Linked DNA regions of Homo sapiens: region 2 is linked to region 1. The links come from fine-mapping of genetic effects on gene expression. A gene starts in region 1. The other region holds a variant in brackets. All regions are shown on one strand. Distances are from middle to middle.

Region 1 (8,000 bases):
GGCAGGCTTGAATGTAAGGGCAGACTTAAGAGTCCTGTTCTAGTCTTGAAGATGACAAATGCTAGGGAAAGGGTCTTGCAGAATAAGTTAAAGTTCATAGGAGTAAGCATCTCTGATCGACTTTCTCCTCTTCCCCCATCTAACTATCCTACTTTTTGCCAACGGCATTTCCCACTCATTTCAATTATTTCATGTCTTCTCAGGTGATTCCTCAGCATCTGGCCAATCAATTCTACCCTGTGGTACATGTCCAGCCTCCACAGAGGTTCCGTCTAGGGAGCCATTGCATTACCATTAAACATTTCTATGACTTGTTTGAGGGTCTCCAGGGAAATGCCACTGTATCCTTTGGCTAAGACATTGATCCTTAAAGCCAAGAGCATCCGACACCTCTCAGGACTTAGTGGTTTCCCAACACCTGCAAAACAGAATTGATGTTTTCTCCAAGAAAAGCAAACTCCTTTTTGTCTCCTGACAATTGCCCTCCCTCCCTCCAATCTTTCCCATATGTAGCCCAGCCTGCTATTACCTTCTCCTCTCGGCTCAGGTAGTTGGACTACTCTCCCTCCTGCCTGTCTGACTTGTCTGAGCCCCATCTTCCTGACAAAGGTTAAGACCCCAGTTTTGCCTTCTCAATTCCCCTTTTTGGGAAGCTTCAGTGAACCCCTGACCTCCCACTCACCTTTAGAATAGCATCCAGAGTCCTTAGCACAACTTCTTTACCATCTGATGGGTGCTGATTGGTGACAGTCTTTCCCATCTCACTATGCCCATCCTAACTCATTCTTTGAGTTCCAGGCTTTATTTCCTTCCCTGAATGCAACAGTGTCTCCATGGCATGGGACATGTGTTCTCATACCAACCCCATCCCTCCACCTGGCCCATTTCTTTTTCTGAGGCTCAGCTGATTCTTTCTGCATCCCTTCTCACCTCGGCACCTAGTTCTTGAAATGCTGTTTTGAGAAACTAGCTTTTTGTGACTATAACTGGATAACTCACACTGTGCTGTGCTTTATTCATCTAATCACACAAGATCCAGGAGGCACCCAACGTTTTGACTTACCTGAAGAATGTGAGCGTACTAAGTTGACCTGAAGCTCCCTGCAACAGAAAGGTAAAAACCCTCTTAGATACATTGCAGTGAGAAAATGTTCCCTCAGCTGGGAAAATGAAGGGAATCATGGTCAAATCCTTGGAGGGACAGAAGGAAGGCAATGGGAGAAACCAGCCAGCCTGGGTTTTCAATACCAACTCACATGCAAGGTAACCCAAGCCTCATCCTCTGATCTGTAAATTGGGGCAAATGTGAATTATTTCCCTTGTTGAAAAATATTTAAAAGATGAGGGTAGGTGGAACGTGAACATATGTGTGTTTTAAACTTACTGTAGCTTATTGATAGGAATTACAGTTCTGGCAAATTTCCCAAAACCTGTAGTAATACCGTAAACAACTAGAATAAAAAGAGACATTATGCAATTAAATGCAGGGATTTTTGTTTGTTTATAAAAATATTTATAACATAAAGATAAAAAGATACCTGTTTTCTCTTTTATGATGCTATCTATGACCTCCCTGGATTTCTGCACCCTCTTCTCAGCTGTTGGGGTGAGCTAGGAAAATGTTGATCAGAACTGAGCACGTTAAAGACTTCCACGGGCAACAAAAATGGCCAGAGGACATCTTTCCCCTCCCTCCCCATACCTTTATTTTGTAGCGTCCCTTTCCCAAGTTGACCAGATCCTCCGTGGTCAGACGGTCTCCATCTAACTCGATGTACTACACAAAAGAAGGGGATCTCAGTGAGTCTGAACAGCTTGATTATTCTAACCAGAGTAGGGACACCTCCAACAGAACCAAACTGACATTTCAGAGATCTGATCATTGCGTGAAACATGAATATGCTAAATAAAAATGCATCTTGCATAAGAGGAGGCTTATTGGTGCAAAAGCATAATGCCTTTCCAAGCCCCCTTTCCCCACTACAGAGCTGGATAAAGCCCTGTGGTTGGTTGGTTTGTTTGTTTTGAGGCAGAGTCTCCAGCCCAGGCTGGAGTGCAGTGGTACAAACATGGCTCACTGCAACCTCTGCCTCCTGGGTTCAAGCAATTCTCGTGCCTCAGGCTCCTGAGTAGCTGGTATTACAGGTGCACGCCACCATACCTGGCTAATTTTTGTACTTTTAGTAGAGATGGGGTTTCACCATGTTGGCCAGGCTGGTTTCAAACTGATGACCTCAAGTGAACTGCCCACCTCGGCCACCCAAAGTGCTGGGACTACAGACATGAGTCACTGCTCCCGGCCAGCCCTGTTCTAATTGACAGTGTTTTCTCAGAAGTTTTCCTGGCTTTCCTCCCTCTTAAATAAGGGGCCTTAATTTTCTGAAGAAAAAGAAAGTGGTTTGAAGCTTACCTTTTCAGGCTCCCGGTACTTGCTGTATCTGTATCCAGGTAAAGGAACATATAGGGTGGTGTGGAAAAACCCCCAGCCCCACCATCTGCAGGAGCCACCCCCAGAGCAGACCAAAGAGCCTGTGGGAAAGGATACAGATAAACTCCTTCTGGTTGAGATGGAATGAAGTCAGGAGACATGGCATCACCCTCTATAACTAAAACAATGCACGGGAGACTCGTTACAGATCACATTGTACAGCCATGTTCCCCCTGTTAAACCAAGGAACGGCCCATCATTGGCCCATGAATTCTATAGAAATGGCTGCTTTAAAACTGCTTCAGATGGTTTCATGTGGTCTTAGCATCTTTATGTAGGAGGAGAGCAAAAAGCAGAAAGGTAGGTGTCAGGGCAGAGACCAGGGGTTTAGATGAAAGTTCAAGACAGAATTCCACTTCCATCCCCATTCCCAGCTTTATTTTCTTCAAAATCTGAACTGATGCTATGCTGCCGGCCTCCAGTCTGGGGGTGGGGGTGGATTCTTTCGAAAGGCAAAATAACCTCAAAATGATTCAGTCACTGCAAAGGGATTCAGACCTGCAGCCTTGAGTACCAGTCTAGTCTTTGTTACTTACTAGCTGCTGGAGTCTGGGTAAGTTACCTCCTCTCTGATTTCTCCTCCATCAGAGGTGGAGGAGAATCCTACCCATCTCACAGGGTTGTGTGAGGACTTAAGATCCCCAGAGGCGTGGCATGTGCCTGCACAGGGCCAGCCTCGGCAAGCCTGACCTCTGCTCATCATTTTCCCTGAGGTGGGGGTTCAATGCTGCAAAGACTAAGCCAGGCCAAACCGCACCCGTTCGCGGCCCTCTCCTGCAGCCACTCACCCACTTCCACGAACTCGTTGTTCTCTAGGGCCACCTCGAGCCGGTCCTCGTTGTCCAGCAGGCCCAGGCCCTTGCACCGGCGCACAAGGAAGTGCGCGTCATCCACGGAGGTGAAGCCACCATTGTCGGGCTTATTCTTGATATAGCGCCTCACGGCCTCCCGGCCCAGCCAGCCCACAGTGAGCTGCGCGTCCTGGCAGGGCACTGCCAGCCATTCCCCACGTACGTGCACCGTGTATCTGGGCATGGCTCCGCTGCAGCCTGAGGTCCTCAGCTGGTCACAGGAGGGGAGAGCTTTATGCAGGAGTGGCTACCGGGGTGTGGTCAGCTGGAAGGATGAGAATAGACTTTCAAACCACTCCCCCTCCTTCACCTTTACTCATTCATGCATTGGACAAATATTTATTGAGGTACCTGCTGTCCCTTTGGTTTTTGTAGCCGAGCAGGGGCAGGAGCAGGGGATGCAGACGGGTGAGCCTCCTGTCCACTTTCCATCCAGACCTGCTGCCAGAAAGGCCTGGGGTCTCCCACCCTGGGAGGTGCTGTTCTTGTCCCTGATGGCACCTACCTGCTGCTGGCCCCCTTTCTTCAGGGTCCCCAATTTCTCTCTCTTCCCTCGTTTCTGTCTGTGTTCTCTGCCATTAAGGGCAGCTTATAAACACCATGTTCCTGTCTTTATCTGAGATTACTCAACTGTAAAACGTGTTCTGTGGGCCAACTGTGACACTGGGAGTGTGGCAATCGTCACTCATTTGTTTATTCCACAAACATGTATTGAGCAACTACTTCCTGTCACCAGTAAGGTTTTCTGAAGCTTTCTTTCCACCAGGGAAGACTGCAAAGGCCAGAGATCATTTTCACAACTAAAGGTCGTCATCTGGGCAAATGAACCACTCTGACTTGGAGATTAGGGGCTCAGACAGCCGTGGATGAGAGTCCAGCTCTACTACTTATTAGCCTTGATTAGGTGAGTATTACCCTGTATTTCCTTATCAGAAGGCCTAGGGGCTAACTGCCTCCTTCCAGTATGTGCAGGATTTACCTGTGATCAAATCCTGGCTCTGCCATTTGCTAAGTGTATGACTTGTGGGCAAGTGATTTGACTTCTCTGGGCCTCAGTTGCCTCATCTGTAAAATGAAGATAATGGTAATGATGATAGTATATATGTCAAAGGGCTATTGGGAGGATGAAGTCAGTTCATATATGTAAAGCCCTCAACACAACACCTGGCATAGTGGAAATATTATAGAAGTGTCTGTGATTACTAGTATCTGGACACCAATACTCCATGTAACTATAATGCTTTATAAATGTTCTGTATGAATCATAAAGCTATAAAGTTCCATAAATGCTCTTTCATCTTGGCACATGGATATCCCTCACCCAATTAAGCTTCTTCACCACAGATAACTGCTCCCTGCACCCGCCTTATTACCATTGGTATTAAGGAACTCTGGATAGCATGATTACGGCATCAAAGATATGCAGATGCTATTTTGACTAAGCAGCACTTTCATCGTAAGCCAATTTTTAGAGATTTGATTATTGCACTAGAAAAATCCTGAAAAGTCTGTTTCCACTAAATCAGACTTCTGTTGGGAAGAGAGACATGGTTGCTCAAGAAAAACACCTATACTCATACCCAGAGTCCCTCTCATCTGCTGACAGCTTCCCAGGAAGCGTACAAATAGCTACCCTTCCTTGAGCCTTATTGAAACTTGCTCTTCAGATACCCACACCATGACTGCACCCTGGAATTTGTCATGACCTGAATTTGACACACTTAAGAAATCACCCTGGAATCTGTCACGACCTGAATTTGACACACTTAAGAAATCTGAAATTCCAATATTCCACCTTCTGACCACAACCTTCCAGCTGCCCTTTTACTCTAGTCACTGCCAGCCTTGGACCTGACCTCCAGTCAGTCTCTTCATCCCTCCACTTCCCACCAGCATCCTCACTTACTATCCTAGGAAGCTGGTCCCTAGTCGCTCACTGGACCACTCTTTCTTAAGCACTCTGAGATTCCTTTGCATCCCTAAACTTATGTCTACACTTGGAATAACACCCATCCCCTTAGTCATCACAAAAAACAGCCATCTCTTGGAAGGATTGCTTAAGCCTAGGCAGTCAATGCTGCAATGAGTTATGATTATACCACTGTACTCCAGCCTGGGTGAGAGCAAGACCCTGTTTAAAATTAAAAGAAACTGTCATATCTGTTCACCCAGGCAGAAGACACTGATAGAGAAAGTCCTGTGATCACATAGTTTGATGGTATTGCCCTTTTATTCCATCCAGCCCACAGTGACTTTCCAAAACTTTGACCCCTCTGCCAGGACCTTCTCGACATCCACCTCTAATTCTCAGAAGGAGACCTTACTTCCTACATCTGTGAGAAAACTGAGGACTGCACATGTGAACCACCTTAACCTTCTGCCCCACCCCCCCCCATTCATTCCTTGACTCATTTAACAAATATTTTTTCAACACCTGTTATGTAACAAGCTCTATGCGAGGTGCTGGGGATGAAATAAATAACAAACACGCTCTACATTCATGAGGCTTACTGTCTGGTGATGGATAAAGCTGTATAAAGATGACTAATAAGAGGTCTAACTATCTTCATGCTGCAAAACAACCCAAACTACTGCATGCTCCAGTTGACTGTCACTGCCGAGACCAGCTTCTGAGTAATTTCAGCCCAGGCATCAGACTAGTGAGGGAAGGAGCTTCCAGGTGATACCACCTCCCAGCCATGTAAGTCACCCCCAGCAGTTTGAGGATTCTAAACTCAGGCCCTACGCATTGTGGAGCAGAGTCTTCCTTGTTATTCTTTCTCCAGAAACGCACTTTCCAACTTCCTTTGCCTGTCTAGATCTTTCTTACTCCTTAAGCCTGTTTAGGCCTTTTCTTCTCCAGGAAGCATTCCCTAAATTCTTCAGTTGGGTTAAGTGGCCCTTCTCTGGGATGCCTTAGCATAGCTCTTCTTTAGTATTATCTAGGAAATTACTTGTCTGTGTTCATCCATAATTATGTATATATCCGATCTGGCACAAAGACATTTAGCATATGCTTACTAGCTGAACTGAAGAAATGTGAACTGCACCGAGCTGGCCCCTAGGTAAACCAGCAAGCAGGATTAAGTTTGTCTTTAGCGCCCTCTACCTTCTTCACAGCACCCTTCCATGCCACCCTTCAAGCATCCCTTGTCACAATTCACTTTCAGTATCACTAAGTGATAACTAAAAACGACATTAACTTACAGCTTGTCTTGTAAGCTCATAGGGCAGAAGCCTTAAAGAGCAGTATTTGGGTAAATGGATTTGCTAAAGTCTAATCTTAGAACATGATCTTATGCCAGTGATTTGAGCTGAACTCCCTTCTCTGTATTCTTGGCAAGGAAGGCAAGGGAGAGCAGAGCCTGGAGAAAGAATCACACTGCAGCATAGATAAGTGACCAAGAGGACAGAACGAGGCGGGTGGATTGCTTGAGCCCAGGAGTTCGAGACCAGCCTGGGCAACATGGCCAAACTCTTTCTCTACAAAACAAAAATTAGCCAGACATGGTGGTGCATGCCTGTAGTCTCAGCTACTCCAGAGGCTGAGGTGGGAGGATGGCTTGAACCCAGAGGCTGATGCTGCAGTGAGCTATGGTCATGCCACTGCACTCCAGCCTGGGCGACAGAGTGAGACCCTGTCTCAAAACAAAACAAAACAAAAACTGCTAGGGAGAGTGAGAGCCAGGGAAAAGTCAGGATTCCGGGAATAGGCAGGAATATGTCTCTTCCATACCTGTCCCACCTTGGGTGTTCACTCCTATTGTAACTTTAGTCACTGCATTAGCACTTTGAGGGGTTATTTGGTCAGGACACCGCTCCCCACCCCCACCCCATGCCAACAATTATACTCTAAGACACCATTCCTCTTACACAATTTATTTGACCAGAGGTGGACCCAACCTGGGTTAGAGTCTCACCTCTGGGAATTTGGAATTGTGATAGCCTCCCCATGTGGTCAGAGCTATTTGTAACAGTAAAGCTGGAGAGTGGCCGGCCTGTACAACGTGGACTAGAGAGGCAGAGGTGAGGGACAGGAGCACTGACGGTGCTGCAGTCCTGGGCATCAGACCCCTTCTGTCCGTCCCAGGTTCTGATAATCTCCCCATACCTAGCATCCTTAAAATAATCTTCCTTTTCCCTTTTTGACTTCTGGTCACTTGGATTGCTGTTACTTGCAATCAAAGAATTCTAACACAGCTATGGTTCTAATTAATTCTAACTAATAGAGCTAATACACTAATAATTCTACCTAGTACAGCTATGTGTGCTGAGATGCCCTGGGGCACTACGTTGCATTGGCAGGGGTGCTTTGTTATGTTTGTCTTTTATTTGGTTCAAGTTATTTTGTTGTCTTTGAACAGACTGTGAGAGGGATGGGAAAGACTGGTGCTTGGGGTGGCCATCTGACCCCTGATGGACAGGAGACCAGGACAAGCCCACTGGATGAGCCGGAGGGGTCCAGGAGGAGGGAGTTGAGAGCTCCTGCTAGGGTTGACACATTCTGGTAAGGAGTTCATCTGCTGTCCACCAGGTAGGTGGTGTGCAAATACAACTAAGCATTCATGTTTAAGGTTTTTTTTTAATTTTTTATTTTTCGAGGCAGAGTCTCCATTGCCCAGGCTGGAGTGCAATGGCGCCATCTCGGCTCACTACAACCC
Region 2 (13,243 bases), 37 kb after region 1:
TTTCCATTTCTTTACTATTAGCATTTTTCATAACCAGTACATATTATTTATTAATTTTTCCTTTCATTTTATGACTATTTACTGAGTACCTACTCTCTGCTAAGTTCTAAGTCAGGCCTAGAGAGTCCAATCTAGGTGGACATATTTCCAAACTGAAAGAAGCTTCTTATTTAAAGTAAGGCATGAGTGTATTAATAGTGAAAGATAAAATGAAAATATATAATTCATCTTATATGTTTCTATAAGATCAATTAATACATTTTATTAGGTAAAACCTACATAATCCATAAAACCACTGTTCATTTTGCTTCATTCAACCATAGGTGCTGAAATTTTCTGCATCAGAAATCATTCTGGAATCCTTTTTACCTGGCACTGACTAAAGAGATATGGGTGTTCCTTCCCAGAAGTCTGTTCAGGAGTGAGCCACTGGAGAGCAGAAGATTTTGGAGAGGTCTCAAAAGAAATTTCTATAACAATTTCTTGATTTCTGTATGAAACACATAAATATATTAGTAGAGTATGATTCCATCTAGTGAAAATTTAAACTCATAATACATACACTGAATAATATAAATAACATAGTATGCATTCTCATCACTGATTGGCAGTAAGCTCTAGGTATGCCACATCCTCAGTGGGTAAGTCTCCTCTCAGTTTTCCTACCTAATTGCCAGCCTGTGGGTCCTTTTACCTCTCCCATGCTAACTGCTAGCGAAGGCTTAATGGCAACTAACAGTGGTTGACTACCCCGTTGTGTGTCACGTACTTTGCATCTGTGATATCATTTAATATTTTATTAGAGTGAAAAAGTAAAAGAAATCATTTTTGGGGCTTCAACTACCACAGCAGCAGGTGCCACAGCATGACACAGAGCAGTGCTAGTCTGCAAACTGTTACCGGCCCAGGACAAGACAAGACCAGAAGTTGAGAGTCAGCATTGCAAAACTTTTAGAGTCATTTTTGTCTGTTGAATCTAATAATAAAAAATGTGTGCTTGTATTTCATCTCTTCTTCCTCATATTTCATTTTTATTGCATTGTACAAAAGTATCAGTCTATGACAGATTGAAGAGGATAGAAATTGGTCCTTTACCCCAGAGAGTTTGAGAAGCACTGATAATAAGGAAACAGCAGAGGTTTAGAGACCAGCAGCCCTGCTGGTGTTCGAATCCTGACTCTATCACTTACTGGTACTGTAAACTTGGGGAAATTATTTGACCTCCCTATGCCACAGTTTCCTTGTAGAATGGGGTGAATACCATCTACCTCACAAGCTAGACTTAAGTGTTTCCCTTCTCTTAAAGGGAAAGAGAAGGCATGAAAACACTGGCCTCTGAACAACTGGGGTAGATCACCCTTGTTCTAGGCCAATAGTTTTCACCCTCTTTCCCCTCAAGAGGTGGCATATACTCCCAGTGTGACAATTCTGGTTGCCACTTTCTTGAATAAGTTATTTCTCTAAGGTTCCCTTTCCTCATCTTTAAGTGTAGATTATACCAGCAGGGTTACTGTAAGGATTAGATACAAGAATGCATTTAAAGCACTTATCCCAAGATTGCTGCACTGTAACAGTTCTATCTTTGGCATTATCATTGTCCCATTAATAAATGCAGCTGGCCTCTGGGGCAAGGGCAAGGAGGGTGCAACTTGTAAAGCTGCCCAGGTTATCTTGAAATGCCTTCTTATGATGGCATGCCCCCACCATCACTCTAGATATTAGTAAAAGGATGAATCGTTTAGAAACTAACAGTTCCCAAAGTCCTTGTTGTATTATATACAAACAACATTTTTAGTATCTTAAGTATATATAATTTTAACTGCTGTATCAACTTTAATCTGAACAGAAGATCAGGATAAGTAGTGTACCAATCATTACATATTTACAAACTAAAATTTAAAAAGAAAAAATATTTAAATTAGTTAAGAATATGTTTCCCCATTATTTAGCTGTAAAAGAGAAAGATCATAACATTCATACTTGCTCAAAGCGATAGGAAGAGAGATTTCCATTGGCGATCCCTTGTAACTTTGTCTTTCTCCAAGAGCATATTTGACTTCTTGTCCATTGATCACTACTTTTTCTATTGTAAGGTCCTTTGTATCCAAAACCTAAAATTAATATTTTTAAATAGTAAGAAAATAGTTTCATTTACCAGAAAAAACTCATATTAGATATAGGCTACAACAACTAGTTGCTTATGGAGAGTAAAATACAGAGTGAAATTAGAAGAATTGAAGAGTCAAAAGCTAGTCTAGGTCTCATTTTTTGGGACTCTAAGCATCTTGAAAATTTTTGGGTTCTAAGATTTGCATATATATTGTTAAATAACCCTAGGACAGTCACACAAATTTTGGGCTTTAAGTAAAAGTCAAATCTAAATCAAAATATGTTTGCTTCTGACTCCTAAAATTTTCTCTATTATGAAAAACTTTATCTATAACTTAAGTTTCTTTCACTCTGGCTCCTCAATACATTACACAATATATTTCCTCCTAGAACTCATGTACTTTCAAACTTCATGTTCGTTAAGCAAATCAGCAAACTGTATATCACTGTGGTTGTATATCTAGAAAAAGCCCAACCTGGTATGGTAACTCAGACCAAATGATTCTGCAGAGGATTGGGAGGCCATATCTACTTGCCATGGCCAATTAAGGACAACTGCTTTGGGCATGAAGGAGTGACATCAAGTGTCAGAGTATTTTCTATCCCCAAAATCCTGAGCCCTACAAATCATACTCTTTAATTATCTCTCAACTAATCTCTTGTCCTAGAATCTTGAACCTTCCTATGCCACAAGACTGTTTCCTAACAACATAAACAAAATTCTACTTGATGGATCTACCCACTAAATATTCTAGTTTTCCTCCTTCCTTCCTTAAACTCCAAGGGAGTTTTTGACTGCTATGACTACTACTTCTACTTCTTCATTAATCATCCTCCCTTTCCCCTTCTTCCATCTGGCTTCTTGCTATTGAAAGGGCAGCCCCCACCCCGATCAACAAAGTCTTTTCTGTCCAATAACCTTGACCTCTGTCTACTCACAGCCCTTATGGACTATGTCATCTGGTTAAAACCCCTTCCTTCACTTCTTTGCCTGTACGCATACATCATAAATGGTTCTCTATTTGTCTAATGTTTTTTTCCTTTCCCCTCCTTTATTCCAATTCAAAAATATGGATATGTCCCAATGTTCCAGCCCCGGTCCTTTGATTTTCTTGCCATATCCTTCACTCCCTAGCTCTTACTCATGCCCACATCTTCAATTAGTATCTCTGTGAAGATGCCTGCCATTCTAGTTCTACAGTTGTATTCCCTCCCCAGGACCTCAGTCGAATCGCCTGCTCAACATTTCCATGGGACATAGCACCACACATTGAATAGGCTTCTAAAAATTCCAAAAATGATTTTTATACTCCCTGAATCAGATTTCTCCCCAGATTTCTTGATTCTGTTAAAAGAACTCTTCCAGTTACCTAAGGTTTGATCCCATTTCCCAACCCCACACAGCCACTTAAAAGTTGTTCTTTCACAATGTCTTCATACTTTTCCTTTCTTTCCACTACTAACCCAGGTCAGGCCCTGGACTGGCAGAACTGCTTTCTACCAGATCTCCCTACCTCTGGCATTATTTTTTTCCTTTTCTGAAATCTGACCTGGCTACATGTGAGGCCAAGAACCAGCCATTTCCCAGCTGCCCCTGGGTACTTTCTTTTGGGGGTACCTCATTTGTTATCCTTACTCTAAATTAGTAGAAGATACGGTTTATATCTTATTTAAAATAATAGGGTTACTCCTTCATATTCTAGTACCTCTCTAGTCTCTTCATAGTCTAGTACCTAGTTCTGAATAGCTATTCAGAATAGCTAACTTGTTTTAAAAACTTGATTTGAGTATCTTGTGTTTATAACACATGCTTATATAGATGAATTAACTGGGTCATTTCCCAGTGGAACATATTCTGTTTTCTATATTGGCTAAACTTTCCAAATCTGTTCAGAATCAGAAGTGTCATAGTGACAACTATTTTTTGTGAAACGTTTTGATATCCCCTGTGTCTGTTATAGCTCTTGGCCCTACCCTTTCCTATAATACTTACTGTACTGCATTATAATGATTTCTTTTTCCATTAGACTAAGGGTTCTAAAACAGAGAATGTTACTTAGGTCTGTATTCCCAGGGTTTAGCACTCTGCCTCAAAAACACTAGGTGTCAATTAATGCATGAAGCAGGTCCTAGACCAAGAGAAAACAAAAAATGCAATGTTTAAGCTGTATTATCTCAAGTCCTAAGTCTCAACTATCATTTGCAAACTACTTTTTAAAATTCCCCTTCAAATTTCAGCGATGTTATTTTTAAAAAATAGTCAAAAACTGTAATAAGAAAGAAAAATAAAGAAAACTGGATTGTTGACAAGTTGGATTTAGTACTTTTTAAGAAACGTGTTAAGCATCAACAGCTCTACTAATTATAGGATATAATTTATATGTTTCACAGTATCCTCTTTGAACAATACCCTCCATCCCCCTAAAAAGCAGTTGTACTTCTCAGTAGCTGGTCAGTTGACATGGAATAGGTATCTGATTCCTTTTTTGCACAGGCTGGTAGGAAGCTCCATGTCAACCCTGTGGCCCACTTCTTTTAAAGTATAGAGGGCTTTATGCCATGGGTTTTGTTTCTCCTATCCCTATTCTCTCTTCCTGCAAATTATTTAATTATTTTTAATCTTATACTATATATGTTGCTTCAAGCAGTCTCAGTCCTTTCTAGAACAAAGCAGAGTTTTTTTAAAAAAAGCTTTATGCCTCATTATGATGTCTAAATTTACATTTTCTACTTGCTATGTGCAGGGATATGATGAAAAAAAATAGGTTTATGTGTGAAACACAAAGCTAAAACTAAAAAACCACCTTGATTTGATTCCCAGTTGAGACATTTACTTAGTGAAAACAAGATGGTTTGCAGTCAGAATTACCTATTGTTAACTGCTGGCTTCTGCCTTGGCCATGGCACTAAAACCTCTTGAGCCACTAACCAAAAGAACACCTAAACATTTCTGAAGGTTTCAGTGAAAAGAAACAAATGTATGAAAGTTATCATAAATTTGGAGGATCAAACTTCAGTGTAAATAACCCAAAACTTGAAAAGAATTTTAGAAAGCTTAGAATTTGTCCGATTAAGTCTCCTTCAGCATTCCTCAACATCACAAACTCTAAGAACGGAGAGGAAAAGAAGACATGACGTCTCTCCTGATTCCGCACTGGCACTGGGTCTTCCCATCTCACCTCTGAAATACAGCTGGCACTATTATCAATGTAGCCCATGTTAAGCTTAGGCACTGTTTTCTAATTGAAATCATCCATTAATCAAACTTTTGAATGTCCTCTACATGCCAGACATAGACTATACTAGGAAGCTGAGATACAAAGAGTTATGAAACACAGTCTCTACATTCAAGAGTCCACAATCTAGTGGAGGAAAGAAACAAGTTAACTTTAAATAAATACTAATTAACTAATTAATAAGGATAAGCTCCTGGTCTAAGGCTTTTGTCATAAATAAGCAAACAATTATAAACATGTTATTTTGTACCATAAATTGCCTTCCTTGTATAACATGTAACATTATTATAATTCCAGGCTCTAATTTGCTAAACAGACATGCCAACCAGAAATCACTATTTTAAAATCTTACTTTTCTCTAGATTTGGGGAATGTAAAAACAATGAGCAGATTTTTAGATTGGGACATTCTTTTCAAAATTTAAACATCCTGACTCTTGCTTACTTATAGAACAGAGATAAAGTTTTTATTCTACAAAAGTGATGAGAACACATGGATACACAGTGGGGAACACACA[C/T]TGGGGCTTACTGGAGGGTGGAGGGTAGGAGAAGGGAAAGGATCAGGAAAAGTAACTAATGGGTACTAGGCTTAATACCTGGGTGACAAAATAATCTGTACAACAAACCCTCATGACACAAGTTTACCTATGTAACAAACCTGCACATTTGAAGTACACCTGAACTTCAAATAATAAATTTTTTAAGTTTTTATTTTACAAAACAAAGGTAAGTGTGAGGTCACATTAAGCAGCAAAAAGCTATAAAAATTTTCATTCTTTTACTTTTATCAGCATAGTTTATAATTTAATTTTTTTAAATAAAGGTGAAGAACAAGAACTTTCCAGTTAACTAAGAGCTTTGAGTGGGTTTGGGGCTTAGTCAAGGTTTTATTATATCTTAAACCAATTGGAATATTTCTTCTGAAATATATGTTGCAGCTAAAGATTCAAGGAAGAATTTGCTGTTCATATATTAGAAAAACCTCTTTAAATTTCTTCCACTAGCGACCTCGGTTTTGGTTTGCAATTATTCACATCTGAACACAAGTGTCCTGAATTGCTTAATTTTTAAATCTCTAGTACTTTTGAATGTAGGACGTATAAACTCATGTTCAAATATGGCAGTCTCACAGTGTGGTTTTTCTTTTTTTATTATTATACTTTAAGTTCTGGGGTACATGTGCAGAACGTGCAGGTTTGTTACATAAGTATACACATGCCATGGTGGTTTGCTGCACCCATCAACCCGTCAGCTACATTAGGTATTTCTCCTAATGCTATCCCTCCCCTAGGCCCCTACCCCCAACAGGCCCTGGTGTGTGATGTTCCCCTCCCTGTGTCCATGTGTTCTCATTGTTCAACTCTCACTTATGAGTGAGAACATGCGGTGTTTAGTTTTGAAACTGCATTGAAATAGGACTTCAGCCCTGCCCAGGCAAAGTTGCTACTGCAATTAAAGATAGCATGGTACTTCAAGAAGACCAAAGTGCGATCTGCAAGGAAATAGATGCCTTCCTGCTTATAATATCTTAATTTTCTTTCTTATGGTACTTTTGTTGATTACCTATCAGTACATAGAGGAATCGACCTATTTTTCAAATCAATCAGTTTAGCAAAATGTTGAGGGATGAAGAGTAAGAAAGTAAGTACTTATTAGTTCATATTAATGAAATCAAAATTCAGATCCTTCCTACACAAGTAGGAAAAAGAGGCCTGAAAGCCACCAATTCTTATCTGCCCGATCTGATCTGATTGCTTATTGATGTGCTTTAGTAGATTTCACCATGCTACACTGTGTAAAATACACATGTAGCATCCTGCCCTGGTGAAGAAGCCGAATTTGGCTGTCTTTTCATGACCCTCTTATTTTTAAAATGATCTTCTATGAAATTCTTCAGGTGAAAGGTACCTTCAGATGAAAGGTATAAACCAAATACTATTGGGCAATTTGAGCAAGAACATTAAATATAGGTTATGATACAGATAAAATCATTGAATAATATTCCATGAATCTACAACCTTTCTTCATTCCAATGGTTATAGAGTTTGTAGAAGTATGTGTTTTCTAAGTGAAATAACTACTTGGCTCCTTGGAACCAACTATTAAAAAAGCGTATTGAATCATCCTTAGAAAATTTGAACGTCCCATCCGTTCTTAAATTATTAGAAGAAAGTTGATAAGATTAAAAAGTAGAAAGGACCCTGAAGAGAGAGAGCTGCGCCTAGAGTTAGCAAGCAGGGACTGTTAGTTTCAAAGTAGGGCGGAAAGAAGAGGCCTGCCCGGCCGGGGCTGGAAATCCTAAGAGGCTTGAGAACGACTAGCAGGGAGATCCAGGGAACTAGGAGGGAGACGGATGGGTGGTGCCCTGCAGACCTGTGGATTGAAATAAGTGTTCCCGGGAGGCAACCGTGGGATCAGGGATCGACAGGACATGGGATCTGAGACTTGGGTGAGATTGTTGACTGAGGAAGGTGCCCAGGGGGCTGGGAAAAGTCTGGGGCCTGAAGAAGGGGGTTCTGGGCCGCAGGCCGAAGCAATGGGGAGGCCATGGAGTAATTAGAGCCAGGAACTAAAATTATGGGGGCTACTGCAAAGATGACACCTAAGGGCTGGGTGAGTTGAGAGGAGTGGACGAGGCGCTGGATGTGCCCAGGGACCTCGGAGAGAGGATCCAGGCGAGGGGCGGAGGAGACATACGTATAAGTGGGGGCTGAGGGAAGGGATGCAGAGGCGTAAGCGGGGTTGAGAAGGGGTGCTGTGAGAGATCTGGGGGCTGAAGTGCACAACATGAGTTGGATGGAGGCTACAGAAGAGCAGACGGGGACGTGGGGCTAGGCAGGGGCCGCGGCGGGGTGAGCCGGAGATCCGGGAGCCCGCAAGGACTAGGGTCGAGGGGCAGGGAGCCCGGGAGAGGCGGGCACTGGGCAGGCGCCCCACTGTACCAGGCTGCGCAGATTGTCCTCCTGAGACTGGACCGTGAGAGCAGCAGTCCCGGTCAGCGTCCGGCGAGTAAAGTCGACGCTGCAGCGCAGGTGCAGGTGCTTGGTCCGGCAGACGGAAGCCGGAGAGGCCAACGAACAGGTATCCACTATCTCGGGCATGGCTCTGGGGGATCACACAGCACAGCGACCTACAGCCCAACGCTCAGCTACCAGACTCGTCGATAGAGAACCTGAGGAGGAGGGAGAGAGGTAAAGAAGAGGAGGAGGGATTCGCGGTGCACGCCGGGAAAGGAAGTTTCTTAAAGTCAGACGAGCGTTGGGGGATGGGTGAAGGAACTACAAGTTCCATGGTGCCGCGCGGCAAGCGGGCGCTTGGCTACCTGGGAGCGTGTGTGTTAGGGATGTTGAGGGGGACCAAGCGTGCTCCTGGAGCTGAAGAAGAGGAGGGGAGTAGGGGCAGTTAGAAGGGTGGCCGAAGGGAAATGATGAGAATGGAGGGGGAGATAAAACTGAACACTACCATTTTGGCTCTGTTCAACTTTCGTGGAAGCTGTGGTGGCAAACGTAAGAAAATCAGGTTCATTGGTGTTTGCATATAGCGAGGGCGGGGCGGAGCAAAAACGTAGAAAAGGCCTATCAGAAGGCTTTCTTTCGTGCGGTTCCTCGTTAGTATAGTGGTGAGTATCCCCGCCTGTCACGCGGGAGACCGGGGTTCGATTCCCCGACGGGGAGGCACAGTAATTGTTTTTTGTTTTTAGCTGTAAGTAATTCAAGGTTTAAACAGTTGTTTTGTCAGTTTCAGTGTTTATTATGTATATCCCCAGAACCTGCATCTCTCAAACGGAGAAAGCCAACATTCCCATCTTAGAAACTAATGAATTTCTATAAAAGTTATGCACTGGTCGCAATGGGAGTACAGAGCTGGGACATCTAGCTCAGCTCTGGGGCCTTTGTGGCAGGTGAAGGAGGATTGAAGGATGCCTTGCCTTTAGGGTGGGGCCTCAAAATTAAAACTGGAAAAATTGGAAGAGGCTAGGTTTCGAAGGACCTTAAATAGGTGGCCTTTTAATCCTGGGTGCATTAATGGGGGACCCACTGAAGAGTTTTCAGCAGGCGACTGATAAAGCATGGTCAGACTCATGTTATAAAATGCGGTATCAAAACCATTAGCAGGAGATTTAGGAAACTATTAAAATGGCTCAATCAGAAGATGCTGGGGGCCTGACATAGGTAAGTAGTAAGTTAGGATAGAGAGGAAGGAATGAATAGAAGGAATACTTATATAAGTGGATTCACAGATTGAGAGGAGACGAAGGTGGCCCAGGCTTTCGGCTTCAGTGGCTGGCTAGTCATTAACCAGAGGTAGTAGTCTATATGAAGAGGACAGTATGTTAGGCTGTACTTGCATTGCTATAAATACCTGAGACTGGGAAGAAAAGGGGTTTAATTGGTTTACAGTTACGCAGGCTGTACAGGAAGCATAGCTCCAGTATGCTTCCAGGTAGGCCTCAGGAAGCTTACAATCATGGCAGAAGGTGAAGAAGGGGCAGGCCTCTACATGGCCCGAGCAAGAGCAAGAGATTGCGGGGCCGGTGCCACACACTTAAACAATCAGATCCCACAAGACACTGTGGCGAGGACAGCACCAGGCCATGAGGGCTCTGCCCCCGTGACCCAAACACCTCCCACCAGGCCCTACCTCCAACACTGGAGATTATAATTCAACATGAGATTTGGTAGGGACATATATTCAAACTAAATCAGACAGATTTAAGGGGAAGATGCTAAATTCAATTTTGGACATATGAAATTTGAGAACCTATGGGAGTGGAAGTGGAGATGTCCATGAGTCACTTGGATATTTAAGTCCACAGCTCTGGGGAAGTGCCAGGTAGACATGACCACGTCACATAACGTGGTGGATGAAATTATGACAGTGGGTAAGCTCAACCCAAGAAGAGTGTGTAAAGAGAAGGGTAATGAAAACAGGTTGGAAGCTGAGAGAACACCAGAATTTATTGTTTTAAAAAGGGCTAGAGGAAGAGAAACCCATGAAATAAACCAGAAAGAGCCAACCAACAATGCCAGATGCAGTCCCGAGGACCACCGAAGTAAGAAGTGAAAATTCTCTAGATTTGGCAGTGGGGTGAGAATGGGGAAGGTGGTGATTTTGTTGACTGTCGTGATTTGGTTGAAGATGGAAGCCAGAGAGTAGTGGATTGAGCAATGAAGAGAAGAGGGAGGTGAAGCATAAACCACTGTCAAGTTGCTTGGCCAATGTGAGAAGGGAAGATAAAGGGGAAGCTAGAGAGGAATGCAGCATTGAGAAAGCTTTTTTTTTTTTTTTTTTTGAGACGGAGTCTCGCTCTGTCGCCTAGGCTGGAGTGCAGTGGCGCAATCTCGGCTCACACAAGCTCCGCCTCCCGGGTTCACACCGTTCTCCTGCCTGAGCCTCCAAGGACTACAGGCGCCCGTCACCAAGACCGACTAATTTTTTGTGTGTGTATTTTTAGCAGAGACGGGGTTTCACCGTGTTAGCCAGGATGGTCTGCATCTCCTGACCTCGTGATCCACCCACCTCGGCCTCCCAAAGTGCTGGGATTACAGGCGTGAGCCACCGCGCCCGGCCGAGAAAGAATTTTTTTAATGTTTGCTTTTTAAGGCAAGAGAAAACTTTAACATGTTTAGATATACAGGTGAAAGGGCTTCTGGAGAAGAGGAAAGTTTCTGCAGAAGGATCGACTCAGAGGCAAAAAGGTAGAGAAGAAGAAAGTAAAGATTTCAGAGGTGTGAGGGATAGTTGATGGGTTTAGCATGCTGGTATGGTTCAATTCTCTATCAAAAGTGACGAAATTTAGCTCCAGCAACAACAACAAAAAACTGCTATATTTCTGGATATCCTTGTGTTGGCCCCTGCAAGCCAAAGGAAAACAAAATAAAACCAAAAAATCCCAAACTATGAAATCTAATACCTTACACATGCATAGGTCCTAATTCATAGGGTGTAAGAATTTGTCATCAACATTTGCATTTTCGGATTTTTTTGGCAAATGTCCTGTTGCCCAGGCTGGATACAGTGGCATGATCATGGGTAACTGCACATTCAACCTCCTGGACTCAAGCGATTCTCGTGCCTCAGCCTCCAAGTAGCTGGGACTACAGGCGCCCGCCACCACGCCTGGCTAATTTTTATATTTTTTTAGAGATGGGGTTTTGTCATGTTGCCCAAGCTGGTCTCAAACTTCTGAGCTCAAGGGATCCACCTGCCTTGGCCTTCCAAAGTGCTGGGATTACAGGTACGAGCCACCACACAGAGCCGCAAACATTTTTTGAGGTCACCAAATCTAGGGTGACAAATACAATAGATAACATAGAATTCATTTAGTCAAATAATACACAGTCAAATCATCTTATTTATCTAGTATGGAGAAAGGATAGTTTGTTTTAATAAGAACGTCATTATCATCATCTTCTATTATTGATTACCAGGAACCCACAGAGTTTATGCCACTTGTGTTTAAATAAAAATATCCACACACAACCACAAATAAATTCCTCCATTAATATATTCATCAAAAAATAAATTACAGTAGGAATTGTTTTCTGAGATACCACTCACCCCAAATATAGAATGTACAAAATTTGCAATTTACAAGCAATTGGAGTATTATTGATATCCAATGGGGAATTGAGAATGCTTCAAAAAATGAGGCTTTCCACTGCATCTATAAAAGAAGGGTAAGGCTGGGCACAGTGGCCCACACCGGTAATCCCAGCACTTTGGGAAGCTGAGGCAAGCAGATTGCTTGAGCCCAGGAGTTTGAGTTCAGCCTGGGCAATGTGGTGAATCCCTGTCTCTACAAATAATAGTAATAATAATAATAAAAGAAGGGTAATATCAGGGTTTAGTTACCAAAGGAGACTTAAAGATGAAAAGATGATCTATATAAAATATTATGAAAAGAAATAATACCTATATTTATAGAGCCATATGAACAGGAAGAATTCCAGCCCTGCTATTCACCTGGAAAAGTTACTTAATCCCTCAATCCCCTCAGGATAATTGAGGCACCTGTGGCCCGTGCAGTTGTTGAAAAGATGAAATGAGATAAAGTATGGGAACTGCTTGGCACTGTGATTGAAACAGATTGGGCATTTGTTACATGTTAGCTAATATGATTATTGCTGTTGGCTTTTGTCTATTTTAACCACTGTAATGTTATTTTTCCTTGTTGTGTTAGCAAGAGCTTTTAGGACAACCTGGGAAGTGAGAAGCAACCACGGTTTGTACAGCAAAACAAGTCACACCAAATTAGGCCTCTAAAAAGGAATGGCAACATTAGCAAAGATATGTTTTGAAATGCATTTACGGGAAATTTCAATTGTTGCACAAATGCTTCCCTTAAAAGGGCAAAAAGACTTTACATTGTTTTCTCCCCTTCCTTTACATATACCTTTCCTTTCTTGAAATAGTCGATGTAATTTGCAGATATTTATTAGATGCATTCTACTACACTGTGCTACCTAGAAAATAATTGGGGAAGGTTCTGTCTTACCTCTTGGATAATTTATACTCTAGTACCCAGCTGTACTAATGACCTAAGACAACATGGTGTTAAGAGGAGACTAAGGCCCTAGAAAAACTATACATGAAATTCTAGAGGGACAAGTTCTATCCCTTTGGAGAAAGTCAAGAATAACGTCATGATTAACATAGCATTTGAGATGGGATTTGAAGGATGAGCCGAATATTAATAGGAAAAATGGTAGGATTGAGCATGGGGAGTGGGAGGTGGGCAGATTTTTCAGGTGGACTTAGCAGGAATCAAGGCGTGGGGCCAGAAGTAGAGATGTGTTTGGGAAAGAACAATTCTGAAGGTACAAAGTCCTACAAGTTAATGCAGTGCCCTCACACACTCCTCAATAATCTGCCTTTCTTCTTTCCTCTCCAGGTTAT

Alleles and levels. Alleles are on the strand shown, and positions count from the first base shown. SD is a standard deviation of normalised expression in the study named.
With allele C in place of T in region 2, the expression in monocytes of the gene that starts at base 3,957 in region 1 is higher (large effect, 0.89 SD a copy in Schmiedel 2018).

What was found. PIP is the estimated chance that this variant, and not a neighbour inherited with it, causes the effect. A credible set is the group of variants that fine-mapping cannot tell apart.
Region 2: its variant is the best candidate, but not a certain one, in a credible set for the expression of HAL in monocytes (Schmiedel 2018, PIP 0.73).

Annotation. Positions count from the first base shown.
Region 1 is chr12:95,992,388-96,000,387 of GRCh38, forward strand. HAL (histidine ammonia-lyase) reads right to left here and starts at 3,957. Exons shown (of 21, transcript NM_002108.4): 1 at 3,691-3,957; 2 at 3,277-3,604; 3 at 2,546-2,606; 4 at 2,411-2,438; 5 at 1,703-1,777; 6 at 1,539-1,611; 7 at 1,385-1,451; 8 at 1,064-1,101; 9 at 293-418. The coding sequence starts at 3,523. LOC102723340 (a long non-coding RNA gene) reads left to right here and starts at 4,095. Exons shown (of 4, transcript XR_945237.4): 1 at 4,095-4,243; 2 at 5,944-6,040; 3 at 7,704-7,873. RefSeq lists enhancers at 4,170-4,339, 5,564-5,858, 6,305-6,364.
Region 2 is chr12:96,027,075-96,040,317 of GRCh38, forward strand. It overlaps LTA4H (leukotriene A4 hydrolase), which reads right to left and starts at 8,513. Exons shown (of 19, transcript NM_000895.3): 1 at 8,287-8,513; 2 at 1,981-2,111; 3 at 370-490. The coding sequence starts at 8,445. TRD-GTC2-8 (tRNA-Asp (anticodon GTC) 2-8) reads left to right here and starts at 8,947; the gene lies at 8,947-9,018. RefSeq lists enhancers at 5,808-5,977, 7,612-7,701, 8,292-8,711, 9,152-9,201, 9,222-9,271 and a silencer at 8,142-8,241. The variant C/T (reference allele first, on the strand shown) is at 5,863.